2 separate regions of the Homo sapiens genome follow, and region 1 is linked to region 2. The links come from fine-mapping of genetic effects on gene expression. A gene starts in region 2. The other region holds a variant in brackets. All regions are shown on one strand. Distances are from middle to middle.

What was found.
Region 1: its variant is fine-mapped to the expression of HSD17B12 in prefrontal cortex (BrainSeq, PIP 0.95).

Annotation. Positions count from the first base shown.
Region 1 is chr11:43,720,046-43,728,384 of GRCh38, reverse strand. All of the region lies in intron 1 of HSD17B12 (hydroxysteroid 17-beta dehydrogenase 12), which reads right to left. Among named protein-coding and RNA genes, the nearest start is that of HSD17B12, 43 kb to the right of the region's middle. The variant T/C (reference allele first, on the strand shown) is at 3,626.
Region 2 is chr11:43,677,412-43,685,750 of GRCh38, reverse strand. HSD17B12 (hydroxysteroid 17-beta dehydrogenase 12) reads right to left here and starts at 5,013. Exons shown (of 11, transcript NM_016142.3): 1 at 4,764-5,013. The coding sequence starts at 4,923. RefSeq lists enhancers at 4,259-4,318, 4,469-4,518, 4,593-5,158, 5,369-5,418.

The sequences.
Region 1 (8,339 bases), 43 kb before region 2:
TATTAGTTAAACAGAATTGGGCCAGGTGCAATGGCTTATGCCTATAATCCCAGCACTTTGGGAGGCCAAGGTGGGCAGATCACCTGAGGTCAGGAGTTCATGACCAGCCCGGCCAACATGGTGAAACCCCATCTCTACTAAAAATACAAAAATTAGCTGGGCGTGGTTGCAGGCACCTGTAATCCCAGCTACTTGGGAGGGTGAGGCAGGAGAATCACTTGAACCCAGGAAGCGGAGGTTGCAGTGAGTGGAGATTGTGCCACTGCACTCCAGCCTGAGTGACAGAGCAAGATTCGGTCTCAAAAAACAAAAAAACAAAAAACAAACAAAAAAAAAACAGAATCACACTATGCAAGCCCCCATGTGGTTACTGCCACAATTGAGATGTCTGCTTAATTCAGTTTGTATTTAAAGCCTCAGACAGAAAAACACATAAACTCAAGTTTTCCAGAAATGAAACAAACAAAAAAGCACCAAACCTACTCTACCATCTCTGGAGAAAGGGGAGTCCACTGCCCACTATACATTACTGCCATAGTTCATCTCTCCCAACCTGAGATCAAGAAGCACACTGGCAAAGTGGAGGAAAAAAGGTGTGATTAAAAACAAAAATGGATTAAAGGGTAGAAAGAGGGTGAATTGTTGTGTTTTTTTCCTACTGTTTTACCATAACACCAAATACTTGGAGAAGGAGTTGTAAAACTCAGCATTAAGAGATGGTGGTTTGTACTATGATGGGAATTTATATCAACAAAATGCCTTATAAGCCAGGTAGGGTGGTGTGTGCCTGTAATCCCAGCTACTCAGGAGGCTGAGGCAGGAAAATCAGTTGAGACCAGGAATTCAAGACCAGCCTGGGCAATATAGCAAGACTCCCTATCGAAAAAAAAAAAAGCCTTATATTCATGAGTTATTTCTCTAGCATGATCAAGATTCAAACAGAATCAAAGTTCACACAAAGTTCCCTCTAAACTGGGACTCCCCTGAAACCTTCTAAACTCAAGATTTTATTTAAATAGAACACAGCCACCTTCGGTTAGTTAGCTGATCCCAATAACGTAAGAGTAGCTTGGGAAACACCTACTGAAAATCACAAGGACTGCTGTAATATTTTACATTGAACATTTTCTGATGGAATCTACCATTTCTTCCGACAAGGGCTACTCAGTCTAACAGCACCAGCAAGACCACATTCAGCTTCAGGGGGCCTCTTGGCCTGTGATGCCTCAGTTCTTTCTACCATATGCTATCTGAGTATACAGTTGTCTTGTTCACTGAAAATGAGCATGGCATTGTACCATGACTGAATCCTTAATATAAAGTATATTTAAGTAAGTTCACCCTTTATGTAATAACTGTGGTCTCACATTTATACTACATAAATAAAATCTATTCTTTGAATTATTATGTAAAGCAAACTTTCCCAATTAATGGAAGCCTTAAAAATTTTTTTAGAATGCAAGTACTCTCCATGGCCCCCCACCTCCCAACTTTAACTATTTTTATACATTTATATTTTCTTACATCAGGTTTTAACAGTGGACCATACTTGTATTTTGACAAGGCTGGCAGCTTCTAATTAGACATAGAATGTGTACATGAATACAGACAGAAATTTTAACAGGCAGCACATATCATAATATTTGTTCTATAAGAACTATTTAGACACAACCTAAATATGCTTGAGAATTTGGTCCATTTGAAAGCTCATGTTGAAATTGGAAAATTCTTCTTTCATTTAAGAGATAACCAAGTGAAGAAACAAACAACAAAAGACACTCTCCCTATGAGAAAAGGATTCTAATGGTCCCTGCTGGGTAAGGTATATGTGTGATGCTTAGCATTGGAAAGCCTGTCTCTGAAATATGATAAAGCTCTGGACCTAATCTCATCTAATGGTAAATTTCTGCCAGAGTTGTGGAAATTGTGGGTAACTGTTTAGATGAGCCATCTCAAGCCCTACTAACGCCCTCAATTTCTCCTTTCTTCCTTTGCTCGGGCTTTAGGGGTTAAACCTACTTATATTCCCTGAACATTTCCTCACCCACTCTATCCCCTGGATTATGGAATGAGAGGCTATCTCTCCAGTTATCTCTTTTCTTATCGCCCTTAGAGACACTAAGGGCAAATAAACCTGGGCCAAGTTACCAAACTACCTAACTTTACTTATCTGTAAAATGGGAATACTATTAGTACTTAACACAGAGATTAGGATATGAATACCAAATCCTTAGACTAGTGTGATACCTAATTAGCATTACGTAAGTGTCAGCCATATGCTTTTATTATCATTAGTATTAAGTAGAACGTTTGATTTGTAAGCACTACATATTACTATCACTATTATTATTTGATTGTTAACTGTTACATAAAGTGAAAATAACAACATGAAATCTTTTACTTTAGAAATCTGAGAAAAATCTTGCGTTCATGGCTCCTGATTACTTGATGATTAACAAAGCACTGTTGCCAAAACTTCCATTTTGAGATGGCTCAAAATGGCTCCTCCATTTTTCTCATATCTGTTCCTCTGTTGTGTCTTTCTCTCACCTAGCCTCATTTATTCAAACTCTGTTGTTCCCTTATGGCCTAACATAAATGGGCCCTCCTTCACAAAGCTTTCTATGAAGCCCACCTTCTAACATAGTAATAACTTACCATTTTTATATTACATTGTTTTGTTTATTTTTGTCTCTCTCCCCAATTAGAATGTAAGCTTCATGAGGACAGGAATAACTGCATTTTGTTAATGGATGAATCCTTGTGCCTAGAATAGTAGCTGGCATATAGATTATTGATAAAAATTGTTGAATAATTAATATTCAATCTGGCCTATGTCAGACTTGTTAGATTAATAAATCCTTATCTGTTTAAGCCACCATAGTTGTGTATTCTGTTACTTACAGCTGAAGACATTCCTGATGTTAAAGCATTACAGAATATGCATAGAATATTTGTTGTTATCCCCATCATTGTTATTACTGTTATTATGAATTAACCAGCATTTATTATGTGCTTACTATGTGCTAGGCATGATGTTCAGTATTTTTAGCACATTGCTAAACAAGCATCATCTTTTTTAACCTTTGCAATAATTTCTGAAGTACATACCAATTTTAGAGATGAAGAAACTGAGGCTCAGAAAAGCTGAACAGTTTGCTCAAGGTAACAAAACTAGGAAATGACTGGCACAAACTATAAATGCAAATTTCTGGCTCCAGTGCCTATACTCTTACCTAGTATGCTGTACTGCCATGTCTGTGAAATATACATAGAAGTATTTTCCTCTTAAAATAACTATAAGCTCCACAAGTCAGAAATCCTGTTCTCCAAGCCATGGTAGCCACTAAAGCAATTAATATATTGGGCCCTCAAGTAGCTACTCAGTAAATATTTGTTACAGAGATAAGTGAATACCAATCCTGCTCTGGGAATCTGAGTTTTTATAAAAATGAGACATGAATATACACTGTTAAAAAATTACTATATTCTCAAGTATGTGCCCCTAGTTTCTCTTGATTGCAGGAATTTTTCCTTCTGTTTTGGTGATATTTGTCACTCAGGCATCTGGAATCAAAACATCATCTCTGTTACGGTCTGAATGTTTGTGTTCCCCCAAAATTCA[T/C]AGTCGAAACCCTAACCCACAAGGTGATGGTACTAGCAGGGGGCATTTGTGGATGGTTGGATCACGAGGACAGAGCCCTCATGAATGGGATCAGTCCTCTTTTGGAGGTCTGAGAGAGCTCATTTGCCCCCTCTGCCATGAGAGGACACAGTGAGAAAGTACCATCTGTGAACCAGGAAACAGTCCCTCACCATATACCAAATCTTCCAGGACCTTGATCTTGGACTTCACAGTCTTCAAAACTGTGAGAAATAAATTTCTGTTGTTCGTAAGCCACTTGGTTTATGGTATTTTGTTTTAGCAGCCCAAACAGGTTAAAACAGTCTCCTAACAAATTAAATAATTGGTGCTCTATGTATTTAAAGATAATGATGGATTTATTTTCAATACATGGCTTTCTGCCACATATGGTAACCCCTAGGCCCTTAGGCAGCTATTTTTTTTATGCAAAATATTTTATGCCAGTCCCTTGTTGGGTAAGACAAGTAAATAAACGAAAACACACACACACACACACACACACACACACACACACACACAGAGCATACACATAAATATATAAAAACATATATGGAGAAGGCAGTCAAAAACTGACTGGACCCATGAAGAGAATCCCCAATGCATGCAATTCTCTTTTCCTTGCCTTCAGCTTAGTGATCTATAACAGCTTCTCATATCAGACAATAAGTAGAGATGTGTAAGCAGATGCAGATAGATGAATGAACTGGGTGATCTGAAAATCTGTTAGATCTTAGAATTGAAGCATCTAATACATGAATTGAAATTAAAAAAAAAAATTCTCCTCCTCCAAACAGTTGTATGAACAAATCAAAAGGAAAAGAAGAGTTGGAGGGAAAATGAGACAAAGAACAAAATCTGGTCTATGTGACACATTTATGAAACTGATGGCCTGTCAGCAAGACACTGATGAATATTTTTGCAGGATAAAAATGGCAACGCAGGTCTAAAAATAAACCACTGCGCTGCAGACCTGTCTGGTTCAGCTACACCACTGGAATATAAACATCCTCACTAGTACATTTTGACTCAAGGTTTCACAAAGAAGGAAAAACTGAACGTTTTGTTAGTAAGACAAGATATTTTACATGGTTATAAATCAGTTATGTTCTCTATATAATATACATTGAATTTAAGTGTAATGATTTTCATTTTCTAAAAAAGGTAAAATAAATGCTAATGGCAATATGCCACTAACTAACCTTTTACAAAAGACTATTTCCTCCCAACCCAATTATAATAAAATTAGAGTGGTATTATCATTATCTCATGATAATATGATAATATCCTAAAATAGGAATTTAAAAATAAAATTATAAATTATTTCTAAGCTGAATTGAATGACAGATCTAGTCAAAATGCTATCTCCAAATGGCTCTTGAAAAGGGGTGAAAACGCTATTATCTCATTTTGCATCCAAATTTACAATAAAAGCTACTATCTAAAATGCAAAAGTGAATTTACTATCCTTTACAAGTAGCACTTTAATTCATCAAATCCATTCACCTTATTCAATCTTGCCTTATGTTACGATTCTGGTCTTAGCTAAATAGTGATTTCAATTCTAAGAGTTGCAAACCTCTGGAAGGTTCTCCTAGAACATTCTGATTACTAACATGCCACCTTTTTTTAATAGTAAAAATGAATTAATTCTCCATACCAATAAAATGTGAATAATAAATTACACTTGATCCTTTATGACCACACTGAATTGGAATAAATAGAAAATTTTAAATGACCATTCTGCTTCCACCTGTGGCCACTAGTCTATTCACGGCACAGCAACCAGGGGCATCTTTGCAAAAAGTAAATGACATCACATCACTACCCCTGTTCAATTCCTTCAGTGACTTCCCATTACTCAAAATAGCACACCACCATGGCAGGCGAATTCTTAATTTTTTTTTTCTTGTTGCCCAGGCTGGAGTGCAATGGTGTGGTCTCGGCTCACTGCAACCTCTGCCTCCCGGGTTCAAGCAATTCTCCTGCCTCAGCCTCCCAAGTAGCTGGGATTACAGGCACCTGACACCATTCCCAGCTAGTACTTTTGTATTTTTAGTAGAGATGGGGTTTCACCATGTTGGCCAGGCTGGTCTCTAACTCCTGGCCTCAAGTGATCCACCCATCTCGGCCTCCCAAAGTGCTGGGATTACAGGTGTGAGCCACCACACCTGGCCAATTCTTAAATTTTTTGTAGAGACAAGAGCTCACTATGTTGGCCAGGCTGGTCTCGAATCCCTGGCCTAAAGCAATCCTTCCGCTTCAGCCTCCCAATGTGCTGGGATTACAGGTGTGAGTGACTAGTCTCCTTGCCTAATTCTTGACAGCAGATAGCTACACATTAAAATATAAATACATCCTCCAATATACATCTGTATACTTCCTCCATTGCAGCTGGTATGCCATCCAAGTAATGGCAAAGTCTTCTAATGAAGAGGAAAAGAAGAAAAAAACACATATAAAGAGCTGTAAGATAAAAACAATTTCACTTTAGGAGTTTTCATTTTCAAACTTATTTTTGCAGTAGGGTCACAAAGTTAATAATAGTCAAGAGAAAACTCTCAATTCCCACTTCGAGCTTGCTCCTCTGTCAGAACTCCCCATGGGACCACCCATTTATTCAGTTGCTCAAGCCAAAAGCCTCAAAGTTGGCTTTAATTCCTCCCATTCCCATATCCCATATTCAATAATCCATAAGACCTGTCTAATACATACCACGTATGACCACTTCTCACTCCTAAAAGTACCATGCCCTGGTTCAAGGCCCCATCATTTATACCTCCCCTAGATGACTGCAAGCCTCCTTTACAACATCCTACTTCCACCCTTTGCCACTAGTCTATTTACCACACAGCAGCTACAGACATCTTTGCAAAAAGTAAATGACATCACAACCTTAGCCCTGTTCAATTCCTTCAATGACTTCCCATTACTCAGAATAAGAGCTCAAGTTTTTTTATGTCCTACAGGATATTTCATGACCTCGTTCATGCCCCTCTTCTACTACCATTTTCTCCTCTTATACTCTCGGCTTTGCCTTTCCTCAAACACCCCAAGCCCAGGCCCACCCATGGGTCATTTCACTTGCTTTTTCCTCTGCCTGGAACATTCTTTTTCTTTTTTGAGATGGAGTCTCGCTCTGTCACCCAGGCTGGAGTGCAGTGGTGCGATCTTAGCTCACTGCAACCTCTGCCTCCCAGGTTCAAGCGATTCTCCTGGCTTAGCCTCCCGAGTAGCTGGGACTACAGGCACGTGCCACCATGCCCAGCCAATGTTTTTGTATTTTTAGTAGAGATGGGGTTTCACCATGTTAGCCAGGATGGTCTCGATCTCCTGACCTGGTGATCTGCCCACCTCAGCCTCCAAACGTGCTGAGATTACAGGCATCAGCCACGAGGCTCAGCCTGCCTGGAACACTCTTACCCCATGTTTGGCTCCTTCTCACACTAAGGCCACTCAACGTCATGTCTTCAGAGAGGGCTTCCTGACCACCCTATCTAAAATATCCCCACCCCAACTACCTATTTACTAGTTACTTTCTATCCCAGATTCTTGCTTTATTCCACTTCCATGTGCAATTACATTATTTATCTAGTATTATTGTCCATCTTCCCATACTTGAATGTAAGCTCTATGACTGTCTTGCTCATCACCATATTCCCTTAAAAAAAACTAACATATAAATTAGTAATCTGCAGCAGCAAAAACTGCAAAATCAAATACCTATAGGAGCCAAGAGGTCATGAAAGGGAGTAAATCAGGCAATTTCCAGCTAATATGGAAATGAAGGCCCAACACAAAAACAGCTTACTATTTTTCAAGAGAGACCTGATATATAACCTTCTAGATAAAATCTCCCAATTGTTTGATGATAAATTATGTTGGTTTTTTTTCATTAAAACTCTATCCAAGCCAAATATACCATATCTGTGAGCCAGATACATACACAGGCTACCACTTGTTAACTTCTCACCTATAGTAAATCTTCCAAGTTTAAACTTACTAGGTGCAATAGATTATTCTATAGATGACTATAAGTCATCCCATTCCACATGCTCTTTTGCAATGTGAATTTGCCATTCCTCCCATCAAGAGATGGAATCTATTTTCCCTTCCTTGGATATGCGACTTGCTTTGATTGACTTGCTTAAGGGAAGTGCCAAACAGCCTAAAATATGCAGCATTGGTTTTGGGACCTGATGGCAGGCAGAGGCTGAAAAAGTGGAAAGTCAGTTGTTAGCAAAGGCCAGAAGAACCATGAGAAAATTGCTATTAGATGCAGGAGAGAGAGTGCCTCATGTTACACAGTGGTGGAATGTTTGGCAAGACTGTTGTCTGCAATAATATTTACCTAATTTAACAATTACATAAGATAGAATATTTACCTAATTAACTTATTGACTGGCTAAAGATATTTCCAGGTAGAACACTGAAAGTAGTACCAACTGGCTTCTTTCAGCTGCATATGATAAAGTATGGAGAAGAGAGAAATAAACTAAAGAAGGACCTGTTTAATTTTTAAGCAGAATTTAGAGGAAGTAAAGAGGGCCCAAAACAGTCTCTACAACTGGCGAAAGATCTGAAATTTAAAAATGGTCTCTGGGGAGATATCAAATCAGAGGTTTGTCCATAAGATCTTTTGTTGAGACCTTGAAAATATAGACCCTTCTCATCTATACAAAGGGACTTCGAAGAA
Region 2 (8,339 bases):
AGTACTCATCCAGTCTGTAGGCCCATCACCAACATACAGTGTACGAATGTTGCAGAACGGATGACTTGGTTTCAAATCCTGACTCTGCAATTTAATAGCTATGAAACCATAGATAATGAAAGCAATTTACTAAACCCTCTGATTCTTCCTCTGTCCACTGGGGACAACGGAGCACAGCTCAAAGAGGTTAAAAATAATCTCAAGTTCCTGGCACATTTCAAGCACCCATTCAATAAATGATAGTTATTAATATTTCTTCTGGGTTGTCAATTTAAATAACTAACATTTCATATATAATTCTTCAAATCATGTGATATCACAAACTCTTGTTAAAGAAAGACACCTACTATTAATAAGCTCTAGTTACACAAGTATTCTTCAGTCATTTGAGGTTAACCCTGTGCAGTTAACCAATGTGAAAACAGAAATTGTGATTATACCTGTGATTTTGAGAATCCTTTGATGCATGTTTTCATGAATGGTTTTTCCAGAGGAGAACCACACCATTCCATGCCATTTTTAAGTCCTCACTATCTACTGAATTAGGAGAACCTTGGAATACTGCAAAGCCAAACGAGTTCCATCAGCAACCAGAAGCTACATCTTAGAGATTTGCTAATGTAAACATCCAGAGGGTAGAACAAAGGGTTGAAGACTTTTTTTGTGAAATCTGACCTCACTCCACAAAACAGAATATTATTCAGCAATACAAACAAAATGAAGTACAGATTTCATAGATGAAACTTGAAAACATTATGCAAAAATCAAAGAGCCACTAACAAAAAAGAACACCTATTGTATGATTCCATTTATATGAAATATCCAGAACAGGCAAACCTACGTAGACAGAAAGTAGATTGGTAGTTGACTAGGGCTGGAGCGGGTGGGGGTCAGGGAGTGAAGGGCCTAATGGGTACAGCATTTCTTTTAAGGAAGATGAAAATGTTCTGAAATTAGATTTGATGATGGTTGCACAACCCTGTGAACATAAGTAAAAACCTTGAATTGTACACTTTAAATGGGCAAATTGTATGGTATATTAATTATATCCCACTAAAGTTGTTTTAAAAAATCTAACTCACTAACTGATTAGTGGATCATTTATTCTTCACTGCGTGTAACAATATCCTCTTCATTAAAAACTAAAAATAAGTGCTCAGAGTGCTGTCTTATGTTTAAAGTTATAAAATATCTTGACATTGGAAGTCTACTTACCTTGCCTTTGCATCTATCATCTCCACTTTATTTCAATAGCAATCATTTTAGATGAACTCCAGCAATGGAAACTACTCAAATACTTGCAAAATGTATTTATGGTCAAACCACATTCTACAGATCACATTTTTTATTGCTCTATAGCAGTGACTGTTCTTTCCTTTATTTAATACAAACTGACCACCTTTGTTATCAATCTTTTTTTGATTACTTGCTACACTGACCTTCAAACACCTGAAACTCCACATTCACAGGATCTCCTTTTGTTCTCCTAAGAAATACAGGAAGTATTCGGGTAACAATGACAAAGAAGTCTTACTTACTAAATTGGCTAAACCCACCTTCTAGGGGTATAGGGAACACAGGGGATTCACCTGAGTGGGAATGTTACTGGTGAGAACTAGGAGAAAGAGATGGCCCAGCTCTTGACCAGGAGATGGAGATAAATTAGAGTGTGGGCCAGCCAAGTAATGGACAGTCTTGAAAGCCTAACAACACTAAGGAAACTGTTATCTAGAATATTTTACTGATTGTGAAGCATACCTGTATTTCAAGTTTTTCAAAGTTTTTGTTCTTAAATTTAGAAGAGCCAATTTGTGAGAAAAGACAAAAAGTGAGAATCCACGCTTTCTGCCCCTCAGATCCTAAAATCTGAGGCAGACAGATTAAACATACTCACATGAAGATACTCACATGAAGAGACTAAGAATAACAAGAATAAAAATATAGTATCAATTCAACATATACTAATAAAATACTTAAAATATATAATTGGTTTTAAAGAGGAAAATATTAAATATTAGTACTAGAAAGTAGATTCAAAGGCTGCATAAGAACAGAGACTCTTGAGATTAAGATAGTAATTTCGTAGGGAAAAAACTTACTAGTACTATTTACATACAACAATTCTAAAATCATAACTTTGGTGGAACAATATTTTTAATCACAACTCTAATTATTCAAGTGTCATCTCTGCTAGTTTGTTTTTCAAATTATTTCAGTTCACCCCTCCAACTCATGTGAAGAACCTGTTTAAGATGAGCTGCTCTTAATTTTGTTTTTGAAGAGTCCCAGAATTTGAAGATAAAGGGAGTATTTTCTTTTAAGATCACTTCTTCTGCTTAAGCATTTAAAAAAAAAAAATCCAAAACCCAGGGTAAATTGAACCTGTCAGCATTTCACTTCAATTATGATACTATGATCCTCTGCTGTTCCAGTGTTCCAGTTCAAATTTCATATCTAAATCTTACACAAATACTTCCCTTAATTTATCAATTATCCTTCCTCTGGGGCCAAATCTTTTCAACACAAATGTTACTTATGGTGTTACATCACTTGCCTTTTACTGTACACTCATATGTAGATGACTTGGACTTATCATTTGAATAATCAACCAATATGGTCAATTTTAAAGAGAAAAAAAAAAAAAAACAAAAAAAAACACATCCAGGCATGGTGGCTCACACATGTAATCCCAGCACTTTGGGAGGCTGAAGCAGGAGGATTGCTTGATCTCAGGTCTTCCAGACCAGCCTCTGAAACAGAGTGAGGCCTTGTCTCTACAAAAAACAAAAAAAATGAGCTGGTGTGGTGATGCACACCTGTAGTCCCAGCTACTCAGGAGGCTCACATGGGAGGATCACTTGAACCCAAGAGTTCGAGGCTGCAGTTGGCTATGATCACACCACCACACCACTGCCCTCCAGCCTGGGTGACAAAGTGAGACCCTGTCTCAAAAAAAAAAAGAAAAGAAAAGAAAACAACAAGTTATTAACATTAGTCTTTGCTTACCAATTACAAATTTTATCTTGATACAATTCCCTAATTTTTATCTTGTATAAAAATCTTGTAGTCTTTTGTAGTCAAAAGTCTTCAAACAGGTTTTCCAAAACTAACAATGAAGAATGTGGGCAAGTCAATTGGGAAATCATAATCTTAATTATAACCAAGTTGAATACTTCACTTTCTGTTTTTTTTTTTTTTTTTTTTTTGAGATGAGTCTCGCTCTGTCACCCAGGCTGGATGGAGTGCAGTGGCATGATCTCGGCTCACTGCAAACTCCGCCTCCTGGGTTCAAGCGATTCTCTTGCCTCAGCCTCTGGGACTACAGGGGCGCGCCACCACGCCCAGCTAATTTTTGTATTTTTAGTACAGACGGGGTTTCACCGTGTTGGTCAGGCTGGTCTCAAACTCCTGACCTTGTGATCCACTCGCCTCGGCCTCCCAAAATGCTGGGATTACAGGCGTGAGCCATCACACCCAGCTGAACATTTCACTTCCTTTTTCAGAGAAACAGGTGACTGTGAAACAGAATTATAATGTTGCTCCACATCGTCCAAAGATTTCACATACATATCCACTGCTAAGATGTTTTCTCTTAATGTTAACATAAACCCAAAAGGTTAACATATGTCTTTCCTACTAGGTTGTTTAAATGTTTCTAAATAAACAAAGAACATGGAGTAACATTATTAGTGTATCTTACCTGAGCCCAGTCTGCAGGCAATGCCTAACCACCCCAAAATTCAATAAAATGCTTAGGAAGTGCACATTCGATTATAAAACATCAAAATAAATAATCATCTCAGGGTAGGACCACAAGCATATCATAAGTAATCACTCGGTTTAAAGGGAAAAAAGGCCAAGAGACGAAAAATAAAGCAAAGAAGGAAACAAAATAGGTTGAAAAAGAAAAAAAAAAGGGGGGGGGGAGCAAAACTTCCCTGCAGATAATTTTCCCTATTTCCTCAACCTGACCTTCGTCCTCCATTTTAAAAATCCTCCGACTACAAGTTCCATGTGTTTGGTTCACTCTTTACGGGTATACTTTTTCCTACAAACGTCCTTGTGAAAAAAAAAAAAAAATCTGATTTTAACATGATGAGTTATCATTTTACAGAAGCAATAGTTCTTGCTACTCGTTAGGACTCCAGAACAGTTTAGCGAGAATTCCTTTTAAAGGGGCTTTGTAATTGTATGAAATAGGCCAAATCCAGATACGATTACTATCTTAATCGTAACTGGGGAGGTACGATTCCGCAGTGCAAAAAGCCTTCTGAAATTGTGTCCCTACACCCCTTTCCATCCTCTGCCCAAACATGTTAACAGAATGCTCTGCATCCTTAGCACAGGGCCAATATTCAAACCGAGCGAAAAACTTTATTTTAAAAACACTTACAAGGGGCGAACCAAGGAGGACAGCGTGTGACTGAGGAGGCAGCAGGGCGACTGACTGGCTCCATGAACACGGAATGGCTTAAAGGGCACAAGCCCCAGAGACTTAAGGCAGTTTTCTCCTACACCCTAAGCTGAGCTTAGATTCCCAGGATTGAGCGAGCAGTGTATTTCGTACCTTAAAACTCTGCAAGTAGTCTAAGCAAGCAGAAGACAGCCAAGGGAGCCAGGAGGGGCCCGCGGGGCACAGGAGCCTGAGAAAGAGGAGAGCTGGGGAGGGGAAGGCCAGGAGCAGACCCCAGAACTAGTCATCACGGCCCAGGCCTGGTCCGGGCCGCCGCGGGAGCGAGGACGCGGCGCTGCATCCGACTCACCTGCCCATTCTCCGAGCCCCGGGCCGACCCCCGCCTCATTCCCCACTCCCCAGACCCGGAGGGCCGTGAAGAGCGAGTACGAAATACGCAGGGCTAGGTAGGCCACGGTGCCCGCGCCGACCCAGTACAGGAAGCCGGCGGCGGGGAGAGCGCTCTCCATGGCTTTCCACTAGGCCTCACTACCTTCGTGAATGAAAAGAGCGAGTGAATGAATCCAGGAGGAGGCGCCGGCCGTGACGGTGAGGATGACACTAATAGGCGCTGCTCCGACACCACTTTGGGCCTAAACCCCGCCCGCGGGGCCATATCCGTGTCGCTATTGGTGACCCGTCTTTCCCTCTGCGCGTAGTGCGTCAGCCATTAGCTGACTCCAGTTCCACTGCCCCTCCCACACTCCTCCCATCACCGCGTCCCCCGGGGTTCCGCCAGTGAGCGCCCTGTCTCACCCCACCGAGGCGCCCCGGTCTCTCATTGGCTGCAGCCGTACTCGCGACTGCGGAAGACTGCGCTCGGATTGGCCGGTCAGACCCAGGCTGGTTTGAGCTCAGGTTCGAAGAGGAAATGGGATCAGAGAAGCCGCTAGTGAATGGAAAGATTATAGTAAGAAGTGGGCGTAGGCAGGGCGCGGTGGCTAACACCTGTAATCCCAGCACTTTGGGAGGCCGAGGCGGGCGAATCGCTTGAGCTTAGGAGTCCGAGACCAGCCTGGCCAACATCCGAACCCCGTCTCTACTAAAAATACAAAAATTAGCCGGGCGTGGTGGCGTGCGCCTGTAATCTCAGCTACTCGGGAGGCTGAGGCAGGAGAATCACGAACCCGGGAGGCAGAGGTTGCAGTGAGCCGAGATCGCGCCACTGCATTCCAGCCTGAGCGACGGAGTGAGACTCCATCCCAAAACAAAAACAAAAAAAAAAAGAAAAGAAATAGGTGTGGAGCCACAGTTTTATTTTCAACTCTTTATTAAATAAATATATATTTTACATATATGATATAATTATATAATAAATATATCATTGTTAAGCGTGCTGTCATTGTTGCCATAAACTTTTCCAGATAAAGGCTTGCAGTCTTCTGTGTCTGTGCCTTCCTCGCTGCAGGCATTCGCCCGGGTTACACTCACTCATAGAGAGCCCTTAAATGCCAGACCTCCCTCCCAGCTGAGCACTAAACATCACTTAGTTCCCAACGATTTGGGGTTCAAGGCAAATAACCTGATGGAGTCTAATAACTGTTAGACGATGGCATCAGAGCTGTATGGTGAATGAAAAATATAGGAACACAGCTTGCTGAACAATTAGTTTTGGAAGGAGACTATATCTTTTAATTTGTCTTCAAAGGGGGATAGAAAATTTTACTTTCTTTTTTAAATTTCCCTTTTTTGGTTGGGGAGTGGGGGAGTGGTATTTCCAGGGGGCACAGAAGTGTGAAGTCCAGATAGAGGCATGGGAACTACGTTAGCAAAGTTGCAGAGGAGAAAGATCACAAGGTAAGTTTAAAAAATTGTGTAAAACTTAAGGAGATTTTGGGCTGAGACGATGGGGTTTTCTAAATATACAATTATGTCATCTGCAAACAGGGACAATTTGACTGCCTCTTTTCCTAACTGAATACTCTTTATTTCTTTCTCCTGCCTGATTGCCCTGGCCAGAACTTCCAACACTATGTTGAATAGGAGTGGTGAGAGAGGGCATCCCTGTCTTGTAACTCAATGTGCAAAAATCACAGGCATTCTTATACACCAATAACAGACAAACAGAGAGCCAAATCATGACTGAACTCCCCTTCACAATTGCTTCAAAGAAAATAAAATACCTAGGAATCCAACTTACAAGGGATGTGAAGGACCTCTTCAAGGAGAACTACAAACCACTGCTCAACGAAATAAAAGAGGACACAAACAAATGGAAGAACGTTCCATGCTCATGGATAGGAAGAATCAATATCGTGAAAATGGCCATACTGCCCAAGGTAATGTATAGATTCAATGCCATCCCCATCAAGCTACCAATGACTTTCTTCACAGAATTGGAAACAACTACTTTAAAGTTCATATGGAACCAAAAAAGAGCCCGCATTGCCAAGTCAATCCTAAGCCAAAAGAACAAAGCTGGAGGCATCACACTACCTGACTTCAAACTATACTACAAGGCTACAGTAATCAAAACAGCATGGTACTGGCACCAAAACAGAGATATAAACCAATGGAACAGAACAGAGCCCTCAGAAATAACACCACACATCTACAACTATCTGATCTTTGATGAACCTGGCAAAAACAAGAAATGGGGAAAGGATTTCCTATTTAATAAATGGTGCTGGGAAAACTGGCTAGCCATATGTAGGAAGCTGAAACTGGATCCCTTCCTTACACCTTATACAAAAATTAATTCAAGATGGATTAAAGACTTACATGTTAGACCTAAAACTATAAAAAACCCTAGAAGAAAACCTAGGCAATACCATTCAGGACATAGGCATGGGCAAGGACTTCATGTCTAAAGCACCAAAAGCAATGGCAACAAAAGCCAAAATTGACAAATGGGATCTAATTAAACTAAAGAGCTTCTGCACAGCAAAAGAAACTACCATCAGAGTGAACAGGCAACCTACAGAATGGGAGAAAATTTTTGCAATCTACTCATCTTACAAAGGGCTAATATCCAGAATCTACAAAGAACTCAAACAAATTTACAAGAAAAAAACAAACAACCCCATCAACAAGTGGGCAAAAGATATGAACAGATACTTCTCAAAAGAAGACATTTATGCAGGCAACAGACACATGAAAAAATGCTCATCATCACTGGCCATCAGAGAAACGCAAATCAAAACCACAATGAGATACCATCTCATACCAGTTAGAATGGCAATCATTAAAAAGTCAGGCAACAACAGGTTCTGGAGAGGATGTGGAGAAATAAGAACACTTTTACACTGTTGGTGGGACTGTAAACTAGTTCAACCATTGTGAAAGACAGTGTGGTGATTCCTCAAGGATCTAGAACCAGAAATACCATTTGACCCAACCTTCCCATTACTGGGTATATACCCAAAGGATTATAAATCATGCTGCTATAAAGACACATGCACGCGTATGTTTATTGCAGCACTATTCACATTTGGAACCAACCCGAATGTCCAACAATGATAGACTGGATTAACAAAAAGTGGCACATATACACCATGGAATACTATACAGCCATATAAAAGGATGAGTTCATGTCCTTTGTAGGGACATGGATGAAGCTGGAAACCATCATTCTCAGCAAACTATCGCAAGGACAAAAACCCAACACCACATGTTCTCACTCATAGGTGGGAATTGAACAATGAGAACACTTGGACACAGGAAAGGGAACATCACACACTGGGGCCTGTCATGGGGTGGTGGGGGGGTGGGGAGGAATAGCATTAGGAGATAAACCTAATGTAAATGACGAGTTAGTGGGTGCAGCACACCAACATGGCACATGTATACATATGTAACAAACCTGCACATTGTGGACATGTACCCTAGAACTTAAAGTATAATTTAAAAAAATTGTGTAAAACAATAAAGTGCTTCACACTTACTC